Homo sapiens: one gene and its partner. The protein of the gene in region 1 purifies or fractionates together with the protein of each later gene. This does not show direct contact. Each region holds a gene or a part of one and is shown on either strand. Other genes may lie near its edges.

Region 1 (7,292 bases):
CGACGCAGTGGGAGGGAGGCTGGCATAGAACGGAGGCTTGGGACAGTCCCTTCCCTGCCCCCCTGCCCAGGAGCCCCTGCAGACTCCACCTCACCTGAACCCACTCCCCCACCCCCAGCTCATGCAGCTTGACACTCAGCCAGGCACTGCCTGGCCTGGCTGGCTCATCCCGACCGCCTCGCCTCCACCCAAAAGATTCCTTTGGAACCTCCCTTTCTGCGGCCCTTGGTACCCTGTGAATTCAGTCATGGTGTGTCTGTCTAGCATCTGTCTCTGCCCCCTGAACACTAAGGGGAGATCCAGTCTGGGTCGTAATTGCTGCTCCATCCACCACATCCAGCCCAGCCCAACTTGAGCAGGGTCCGAACACAATGCTGGATAAGTAAGTGAATCCTTCAAAGCAGAGCAGAGGAGGGTCCCAGAGACACTGTCCTTATCTTGTCAGTTTCCTCAACAACCACCGTGCGAAAGGGGGCAAAGGGGATATGCTACGCCCCCATTCTCCCCAGCGCCTCACTTTCTACAACCTGTCCCCAGACGCCTCCCCCATGCCACGGCTCCAATTCCCCCTGCCCAGGCTCTCCCACCCCTACCCTACTCACCCCAGGCTTCCTCTTCTGCTTCTCGGGCCTGATGTCGTCCTCGATGATGAGTTCGATGCCAGCCTCAGAACGCAGCACCTCCTTCAAGTCCTCCTCCAGGTGCGGGGTCTGTGGCTGTGGGTAGGCACGGGGCAGCCCACGTGAGGCACCACACTCGGGCTGTGTGTGTGTGGGACTGTGGGACCAACCCAGCTGCAACTGGGCTGTCCTGGGTAAGGCAGGAAGGAGGCCTGACGCCAGGATGCAGATCTCACACGCACCATTCACAACCACTAACTGCTGCCTTGGACAAGCAGCTGATGACCTTGATTCCCAGGGGCCTGCCATGGCTGGGAGCAGCCCAGAGACGCACTGTAACCCTCACACAGCCCTGTGCAGTAACCGTCATTTTAAGCAGGTAGAAACAGAAGCTCAGAGATCAACAGCCTGGCACACAGTCACACAGCTGCTGAATTAGGACCCCGACAGCTCAAAGCCCAGGCTCACTCAACCCTTTGTTCCACACTAATGGGGGCTCTCAAACCCATTTCCCTTTCTCAGGCCTCGGGGTTCCAAGGACCTCTCCAGCTTCAGGCAACAGAGAACAGGGGAGGGCGAGTGCTACTAAGAGTGAAAGGTGCGAATCACAGCCACTCCTCATAAGTCATCCGAAAAGCCCCCACAAACTTTAATTACAGCTGCCAAGGTCATGTGATTTGCCCTCACACCTGTTTGGAGAGCATGCAGATATTTTAGTACAGAGGAGCCAAATCTCCACTGCAACAGGAAAGGAGCACTAACTAGTGCCTCACCTCGGCTCATGTAGCATGGTCCGTGGAAAGTCTGCTTGACTCAGAATCAGTTCCATGGCAGGCCCAAGGGAGCCTCAGCCCCCAGCCACCTTGGGCTTCATAGGAGGCTCCATGCAGTGGAGAGAGACAGCAGGGGGACCCGCTGCAGACCTTGTTCACAGTCCAGTGCCTCCACAACCATGCCTTTCTCTCACCCTCCACTGATTTCTAAAACACCTGTGTGTTTCAGAAAGCCCAAGGTGCCAACTCCTTTTTTCATAGAGAAAACACAACCATCCCATCAACTGGGAAGAGCAGGGGAGAAGGGCAGCCTGCACACTGCAGGAAAGACGTCCCCGAGGGGCTTTCCCGTGCTCTGTAGAGAACTGGGAGTTGGTCAGAGACAGGCCAGAGTAGCAATTTGCCACTTCTCTGAACTAGGCCCAGTGCTTATCTTTGCCTGAAAGTGTTTAAGTTATTTGTATTTCACATCAGTCTCCCCCATCCTGAGGCTGAGTGTCACGGGATACCACCATGTCTCTAGCACCAGCCGGCGCGTGCTTGCAAACTCAGGTGCTCAGGAGCAGTCGGAGGAAGTGACAAAGAGCAGCCTCAGCTTCCCCATTTATATTATCAGGATCTCTGCATCTTCTCAGGAGAAAGAATCAAATGAGACCTCAGAGGGAAGGGTCCTGTGGACTGAACATGGTTGGATGAACCGAAGGGATCCCACTGTGCAGAGATCCACGGCAGCGACCACACCACGTACCAGGGGCTTCAGGGGTCCGTACTTCTCCAGGGCGTTCTTGAACGGGGTTGGCGTGTGGGGAGTGTTGTCCATGGAGTACTTCTGATCTGGGGTTACAAACCTGCCAGGGGCCAGAACGGGGGAACTAGTGACAGGATAGGGGCCGACGCCAGGCACTCTGCTGCCCTGGCTCCACCTTCCCCCAGTGCGACCTTTGGCCCCAGCACAGGTTCTCGTCCCATCCCTCTCCCCACCCTGCAGGTCCAAGTCAGGGGCTCGGGGGAAACAGAAGGGAGAGGGGAGTCTAAGAGGGGCCAGGAGCCCCAGACAGGTGGCAGATAGCCGAGAATGCTGCTCAGTCATGGTCCAGACTTGGGACTTTCCAGAAAACAAGGCAGTCCGTGGCCACACTTCAGGAACAGTGAGAGGGGGCACGGAGCAAGGTGGGAACCCAGGAAGATCCCATCCTGCCCAGCTCTCCCTGGAGAGCCTGTGTGAGAAGGATGGTGGCAGCACAATGAGGGAAAGGAGGGGCGAGAGGTGAGGCCAGCATCTTCCCAGGTCTCCCAAGAGTTCACCGAGGTGATGGACACGTGGAGGGAACCCTTCAGCAGAACAGAGAAAAACCCAGGATGGTCTGGTCCAGAAGCAGAACTATAAGATGCTTCTATCAGATGTAGACCCACCATGGGTGATTTCCACCTGCCCTAGAGCAGGGGGGCAGAAAAGGCACCTCACGCCCCAGAGCGCCAGGGCTGGTGGTATGGGGCTGGGCCAGGCTGGCTGTGGGCAAATGTCAGCTCTGAAGGAAGCTACCAGGTTCCACAAACACGAACCCTTGTGTGCTGGTATGTGACCTTAGTCACCTGGAGATACCACCATGGCTGACTCTCATGGCATAACCAGGGCACTCAGAGGATGAGAGAAACACCCCAGGTAGCCAGGGACCTGGGTGATGAGGCCAACTCCTAGAAACAGCAGCCTGGGGCCTCGCCGCCTCCACTTCCCGCAGCTGGCCAGCCACTCCATGGGGAGATAAAAAACTAGAACAAATGCAGACCATTCTTTTCTTCCTTCCTCAGGACCTAGAGATTAGGCAGGGATCCACAGTCTCTTCCCAAACCCTTGTTATCCCCCATCTGGGACACACAGAGATCCCCCTCTGTAAGGAAGAGTGAAGACAGATAAGCACAAGTCAAATGTACACATCTTACAGTTCAAACCACAATTCACAGAGGTGAATCTGAGCCACTCAAGCATCTCCATGGGACATGGAGTTTCTGAGGAACATGAGAAAATTCCAGAACCTCTCTAATTCGTGGCATCAACAAGGACTAAGAGCACACACATGGCCAAAGGCAGTGGTTCACGCCTGTAATCCTAACACTCTGGGATTAGTGTTAGGCTGACAGGAGAGGATCACTTGAGGCCAGGAGTTAAAGAACAGTCTGGGTAACACAGACTCCATCACTACTAAAAATAAAAAAATCAGCCAGCCATGGTGGTGCTTGTAGTCCCAACTACTCCAGAGGCTATGGTAGGAGGACCACTTGAGCCCAGAATTCAAGGCTGCAGTGAGCCATGATTGCACCACTGCACTCCAACCCGGGTGACTAAGAGAGACCTTGTCTCGGAAAAAAGAAAAAAAAGAGTGTATATACACACATTAGAAAACTCAGGGAGAGGCCGGGCCTTGTGGCTCACCCCTGTAATGCCAGCACTTTAGGAGGCTGAGGCGGAAGGATTGCTTGAGTCCCAGAGTTCAAGACTAGCCTGGGCAACACAGTGAGACCCTGTCTCTCAAAAAAACAAAAAAATTAGCCAAGCATGGTGGTGCACACCTGTGTTCTCAGCTAGTTAGAAGGCTGAGGTGGGAGGATCACTTGATCCTGGGAGGTAGAAGTTGCAGTGGGCCATGATCACACCACTGTATTCAACCTTGGGGACAGAGCAAGACTGTCTCAAAAAGAAAACTCAGGGAGGCAGGGAGGCTGACTTGAAAAGGGAATTCAAAAGATTGCTTGGAGATAAAAAATGCAGCTCTGTAAATCAGAGAATTCAGCAAGTTGGAAACCACAGACAACCAAACTGGTGAATCAGAAAACAATCCCATCATGTTCTCCGAAGATTAAGGAAATGGCTTAAGATGGTGAAGAGGCGTATGAAGACGAAAAAGACACAGAGACCAATCCAGCCTATATATGAAGGAATTCCTAAGGTAGGAGAAGGGGCAGACAGGGAAAGAAAAACTAAAGAAATAAACACTTCCTCAGCTCAAGGTTTGAATCTTTAGTCTGATATGAAAGCCGGGGGGGAAAAAAATAGAGAAATACCACACCACCATACAGCCTGTCAAATTTGAGGGATAACTAAAGAGACTCTCTACAAAGGAATAACAGCTGGATTACAGCTCACGCCTGTAATCCCAGCACTTTGGGAGGCCGAGGCAGGCCATTTGAGTCAGGAGTTCGAGACCAGCCTGGCCAATATGGCGAAACCCCATCTCTACAAAAAAATAGAAAAATTAGCAAAAAAATATAAAAATTAGAACTCATCACCAGCAAGCCCACACTACATGGTTAAAGGATGGCCTTCAGAAGGAACCAGATGGAAATATGGATCTAAAGAGGAATGAAGAGCACTGGAGATGCTTCTTCCTATGGAAAAAAGGAATTGGAAGGAGGCAGCAAATGAGGCCACATGGATAAGAAAGAAAGGGAGAGAGAGAAGTATCAATGCCTTTTGTAGTGACAGCATCTCTGTTTAAGGGCTTAGATGCGAAGTCCAAGATTCTGGTTTGAACGGACAATCATTTCTCACGAAACCTATCTAAGTTATGCTTTAGATCAACTCTTTAGAGACTGATTTCTTTTTTCTCTTTTTTTTTTAAAAAAAAAAAAAACTAGAAAGAGAGTCACGCTTTGTCACCTAGGCTGGAGTGCAGTAGCCAATCATAGCTCACTGCAGCTTCAAACTCCTGGGCTCAAGCAATCCTCCCACTTCAGCCTCCCGAGTAGCTGGGACTACAGGCACACACGGCCACGCCCAGCTAATTAAAAAAATTTTTTTTGGCTGGGAGCAGTGGCTCACACATATAATCCCAGCACTTTGGGAAGCCGAGGCGAGTGGATCACAAGGTCAGGAGTTTGAGACCAGCCTGACCAACACGGTGAAACCTCGTTTCTACTAAAAATACAAAAATTAGCTGGGTGTGGTGGCGCGTGCCTGTAATCCCAGCTACTCAGGAGGCTGAGGCAGGAGAACTGCTTGAACCCGGGAGGCGGAGGTTGCAGTGAGCCGAGATTGCACCACTGCACTCCAGCCTGGGTGATAAAGCAAGACTCCATCTCAAAAAAAAAAAAAACTTTTTTTTTTTTTGTGTACAGACAGGGTCTCCCTATATTGCCCAGACTGGTCTTAAACCCCTAGTCTCAAGTGATCCTCCCACCTTGGCCTCCCAAGCGCTGGGATTACAAGTGTGAGCCACTGAGCCGGACTTTGGAGACTGATTTCTGACTAAGGGATTCACAAATCTTTTCCCGAAATTATGTATCACTATCAGGGCTAAAATTCCTGAGCTGATTTCTGAATCACAAAATAGCGATTTCCTCCTCCAGCAAATGTATCAAGCAGAGGAATAGTTAAGCAACTCTCTCTACCTGGAATTTAGAATCATGATGACCCAAGGAAGTAAACTTATTGTAAAAGCACTTCCATTGTAAAAGCAGGCTGGCGAGCAACCTGTACAGGCTTCCAGACAGAAAATGTCATGCTCCGTAAGCTCAGAGGACAGGAATGCAGTCTCCACTCTTGATAGAGGGATGGGCACTTTCGCCCTGCACATAAGGCTGCTCAAACACAACGAATTTGCACCTGAAACCTTAGGAAGCGGAAGAGATTATGTTTTTCAGGCTAATTTGGACTCTCCATTCCTGAGACAGAAAATTATCAAATGAGGGCCAGGTGCAGTAGCTCACGCCTGTAATCCCAGCGTTTTGGGAGGCTGTGGCAGGAAGATCACTTTAAGGCCAGTTCAAGACCAGCCCAGATAAAGTAGCAAGACCTCACCTCTTAAAAAAATTTTAGCCGGGTGTGGTGGCTCACGCCTGTAATCCCAGCATTTTGGGAGGCTGAGGCAGGAGGATCACGAGGTCAGGAGATCGACACCATCCTGGCTAATACGGTGAAATCCTGTCTCTACTAAAAATACAAAAAATTAGCTGAGCGCGGTGGCGGATGCCTGTAGTCCTAGCTACTCGGGAGGCTGAGGCAGGAGAATGGCATGAACCTGGGAGGCGGAGCTTGCAGTGAGCCAAGATCGCGCCATTGCACTCCAGCCTGGGCAACAGAGCAAGACTCCATCTCAAAATAAATAAATAAATAAATAAATAAATAAATAAATAAATAAATATTTTTTTAATTAGCTGAGCATGGTGGCATGCACCTGGAGTCCCAGCTACTCAGGAGGCTGAGGCAGGAGGATCACAAAAAAGGAAACTATCAAATTAAAAAATACAAATGAGGAAAAGCAAAGGTGGAGCCCAAAACTATATCGATAAAAATGATAAATCGTGGTGGCCAGAAAGGAGAGGGCTTTCTTAAAACAGTCTTCAGTGTTATTCCAAGGGTGCCCCCTCCCCACTGTTCCACCAGTGGTCCCAAGGCCCATGGTCTGGTGTTGCTGAGGGAGAGGACGGCGAAGGTTGGGGGCACTGCAGCACTCACGCAGCATGTTTCTGGTGCAGGGGTGTCTTGTCCCGGTGCAGTGGTGTGGTGACCACCACCTTCTGGCTGCACACTGGGGTGGATGTCAGCGAGGGGCTCTCCAGCTCCAATGTGTCCTGTTTGTTCCAGAAGTTCAGAAACTGCCAAAGAAGAGAGAGGGAACAAGACAAAATGATGACCTGCATGAGTATCCCTGAGACCTCAGGGGATCATGGGGAGAGATCCTTGAGCCTCTCCCCCAAAACGTCTGCTCTGATACTGAGGTCCCCTCTTGACCCATCAGACACCCGAGAACAAGGACTGGGACAGATCGATGCCAGGAGCCCACCAAGCAGGTTCACACAGACCTCTGGGCTTCCGTCACCCTAATCCTAGCTTTTGCCATCTCTACTCGAGTGCTGACGACGCAGTTAAGGCACAGGAAGCCAACTGTGGGAGAGTGGCTCC
Region 2 (3,287 bases), on another chromosome or scaffold:
GTAATGAAGGCTCACTACATCCTTGACCTCCCAGGCTCAAGTGATCTTCCCACCTCAGCCTCCCACCTGTAGCTGGAACTACAGGTGCATGCCACCACATCCAGCTAATTAAAAAAAATTTTTTTGTAGAGATGGGATCTCACTATGTTGCTCAGGCTGGTCTCAAACTGGCCTCAGTGTCTTGCAGTGCTGGGATTACAGGCATTGTTTGTTGTTTCTTAACTTTGTTTATGGTATCTCTTGCCACAGTAAAATTTTAAAGTTTTATGTAGTCAAATGTCTCTCTTCTCTTTTACAGTTTCTGGGTTTCCAGTCTTGGTTAAGAAGGTCACCCGCACCCTCAGATTGTATATGTAGTCTCCTAGATTCTCTTTCAGGATTTGTATGATTTTAAGGTTTTCATTTTTTTTTTAAAGCCAGTCAAATTTAGCAGTTGGGGGTTGTGTACCAACTTTAGTGACAATAATGTCACTACCCGCTACCATCAGAGCAGCCTAAGGTTCTTATTTTCATGCATTAAATCTTTGTATACAGTGTAAGACAAGCATGCAATTTTATTTCCTCTCGGATGAATGCTATTATAATTATGCCACTACATACTACATACCCGCATCTTTTACCCCCAGAATTGAACTACCAACTTCAACATACATCGTATTCTCATATTTAATAGATTTTAAGACTTCAAAACGACACAAAGAGGATCAGAACCCGTATGTGATATTTTTGTGCGTCCTGTCTGGTGACCGTTGGTTCACCTTATCTCTGTTTCCCTTTCAGGTGCTGCTAGCTGAGGAGGGGATAGCTCCTCTTTCTTCTGCAGGACCAGGGAAAGAGGAGAAACTCCTGTTTGGAGAAGGGTTTTCTCCTTTGCTTCCAGTTCAGACTATCAAGGAGGAAGAAATCCAGCCTGGGGAGGAAATGCCACACTTAGCGAGACCCATCAAAGTGGAGAGCCCTCCCTTGGAAGAGTGGCCCTCCCCGGCCCCATCTTTCAAAGAGGAATCATCTCACTCCTGGGAGGATTCGTCCCAATCTCCCACCCCAAGACCCAAGAAGTCCTACAGTGGGCTTAGGTCCCCAACCCGGTGTGTCTCGGAAATGCTTGTGATTCAACACAGGGAGAGGAGGGAGAGGAGCCGGTCTCGGAGAAAACAGCATCTACTGCCTCCCTGTGTGGATGAGCCGGAGCTGCTCTTCTCAGAGGGGCCCAGTACTTCCCGCTGGGCCGCAGAGCTCCCGTTCCCAGCAGACTCCTCTGACCCTGCCTCCCAGCTCAGCTACTCCCAGGAAGTGGGAGGACCTTTTAAGACACCCATTAAGGAAACGCTGCCCATCTCCTCCACCCCGAGCAAATCTGTCCTCCCCAGAACCCCTGAATCCTGGAGGCTCACGCCCCCAGCCAAAGTAGGGGGACTGGATTTCAGCCCAGTACAAACCTCCCAGGGTGCCTCTGACCCCTTGCCTGACCCCCTGGGGCTGATGGATCTCAGCACCACTCCCTTGCAAAGTGCTCCCCCCCTTGAATCACCGCAAAGGCTCCTCAGTTCAGAACCCTTAGACCTCATCTCCGTCCCCTTTGGCAACTCTTCTCCCTCAGATATAGACGTCCCCAAGCCAGGCTCCCCGGAGCCACAGGTTTCTGGCCTTGCAGCCAATCGTTCTCTGACAGAAGGCCTGGTCCTGGACACAATGAATGACAGCCTCAGCAAGATCCTGCTGGACATCAGCTTTCCTGGCCTGGACGAGGACCCACTGGGCCCTGACAACATCAACTGGTCCCAGTTTATTCCTGAGCTACAGTAGAGCCCTGCCCTTGCCCCTGTGCTCAAGCTGTCCACCATCCCGGGCACTCCAAGGCTCAGTGCACCCCAAGCCTCTGAGTGAGGACAGCAGGCAGGGACTGTTCTGCTCCTCATAGCTCCCTGCTGCCTGATTATGCAAAAGTAGCAGTCACACCCTAGCCACTGCTGGGACCTTGTGTTCCCCAAGAGTATCTGATTCCTCTGCTGTCCCTGCCAGGAGCTGAAGGGTGGGAACAACAAAGGCAATGGTGAAAAGAGATTAGGAACCCCCCAGCCTGTTTCCATTCTCTGCCCAGCAGTCTCTTACCTTCCCTGATCTTTGCAGGGTGGTCCGTGTAAATAGTATAAATTCTCCAAATTATCCTCTAATTATAAATGTAAGCTTATTTCCTTAGATCATTATCCAGAGACTGCCAGAAGGTGGGTAGGATGACCTGGGGTTTCAATTGACTTCTGTTCCTTGCTTTTAGTTTTGATAGAAGGGAAGACCTGCAGTGCACGGTTTCTTCCAGGCTGAGGTACCTGGATCTTGGGTTCTTCACTGCAGGGACCCAGACAAGTGGATCTGCTTGCCAGAGTCCTTTTTGCCCCTCCCTGCCACCTCCCCGTGTTTCCAAGTCAGCTTTCCTGCAAGAAGAAATCCTGGTTAAAAAAGTCTTTTGTATTGGGTCAGGAGTTGAATTTGGGGTGGGAGGATGGATGCAACTGAAGCAGAGTGTGGGTGCCCAGATGTGCGCTATTAGATGTTTCTCTGATAATGTCCCCAATCATACCAGGGAGACTGGCATTGACGAGAACTCAGGTGGAGGCTTGAGAAGGCCGAAAGGGCCCCTGACCTGCCTGGCTTCCTTAGCTTGCCCCTCAGCTTTGCAAAGAGCCACCCTAGGCCCCAGCTGACCGCATGGGTGTGAGCCAGCTTGAGAACACTAACTACTCAATAAAAGCGAAGGTGGACATGCTGGGCTCTGTGGTTTATTGGCGTCTGATTCCTAAGGCACCAGGAGAGGCTGGAAAAGAAAGAGGGTGTTGATGGAGACGATGGTGATAGGGAAGAGGCAAGGCCTGAAGTTCACCCAAAGCAGCAGTTGGAGCACTTGCACAGGCACACACTTGACAACACAAATTGCCAGTTTTCCCAGTGCTAGTCCTGCACAGCTCACCTCTTTTCCCTGGCGTCTCTGACCTTGTTCCTTGGGACCTTTGGACCTGCTGGTTAACTTAGGCCTTTTGAGGGTTCTTAATAAGACAAGCTCACGAGGGGTAGGGCCCCCTGAACATTAGGGCAGGAAGGGCCCAGTTACAGGTGCTTCATTCCCACTGCCATCCCCACCCTGAGGCCTGGGAGCCAGCCTGCCCTGCTTTTCTTCTGCCCGGCAGCAGCTCCTGTTACAGTTTTTTGCAGTCAGAACTTGAAGAAAGTGCTATCCCCTGCCTGTCTAACCTGAAAAGTAGCCAGGGGCCCAAGGGTCACAAGAGGCTCCA

The links.
Region 2: the proteins of MYBL2 (region 1) and FOXM1 purify together in Homo sapiens (affinity purification with western blotting; 3 studies listed by BioGRID and IntAct, with this or other methods). This does not show direct contact.

What each region holds. Positions count from the first base shown.
Region 1 is NC_000020.11:43,704,912-43,712,203, reverse strand, and holds part of MYBL2 (myb-related protein B), read right to left. Parts: intron 6,986-7,292; coding exon 6,846-6,985; intron 2,242-6,845; coding exon 2,142-2,241; intron 717-2,141; coding exon 603-716; intron 1-602. UniProt on the Homo sapiens protein: Transcription factor involved in the regulation of cell survival, proliferation, and differentiation. Transactivates the expression of the CLU gene.
Region 2 is NC_000012.12:2,857,157-2,860,443, reverse strand, and holds the end of FOXM1 (forkhead box protein M1), read left to right. Parts: intron 1-652; exon of another isoform or gene 653-780; coding exon 781-1,806; 3' UTR 1,807-2,764; downstream 2,765-3,287. UniProt on the Homo sapiens protein: Transcription factor regulating the expression of cell cycle genes essential for DNA replication and mitosis. Plays a role in the control of cell proliferation. Also plays a role in DNA break repair, participating in the DNA damage checkpoint response.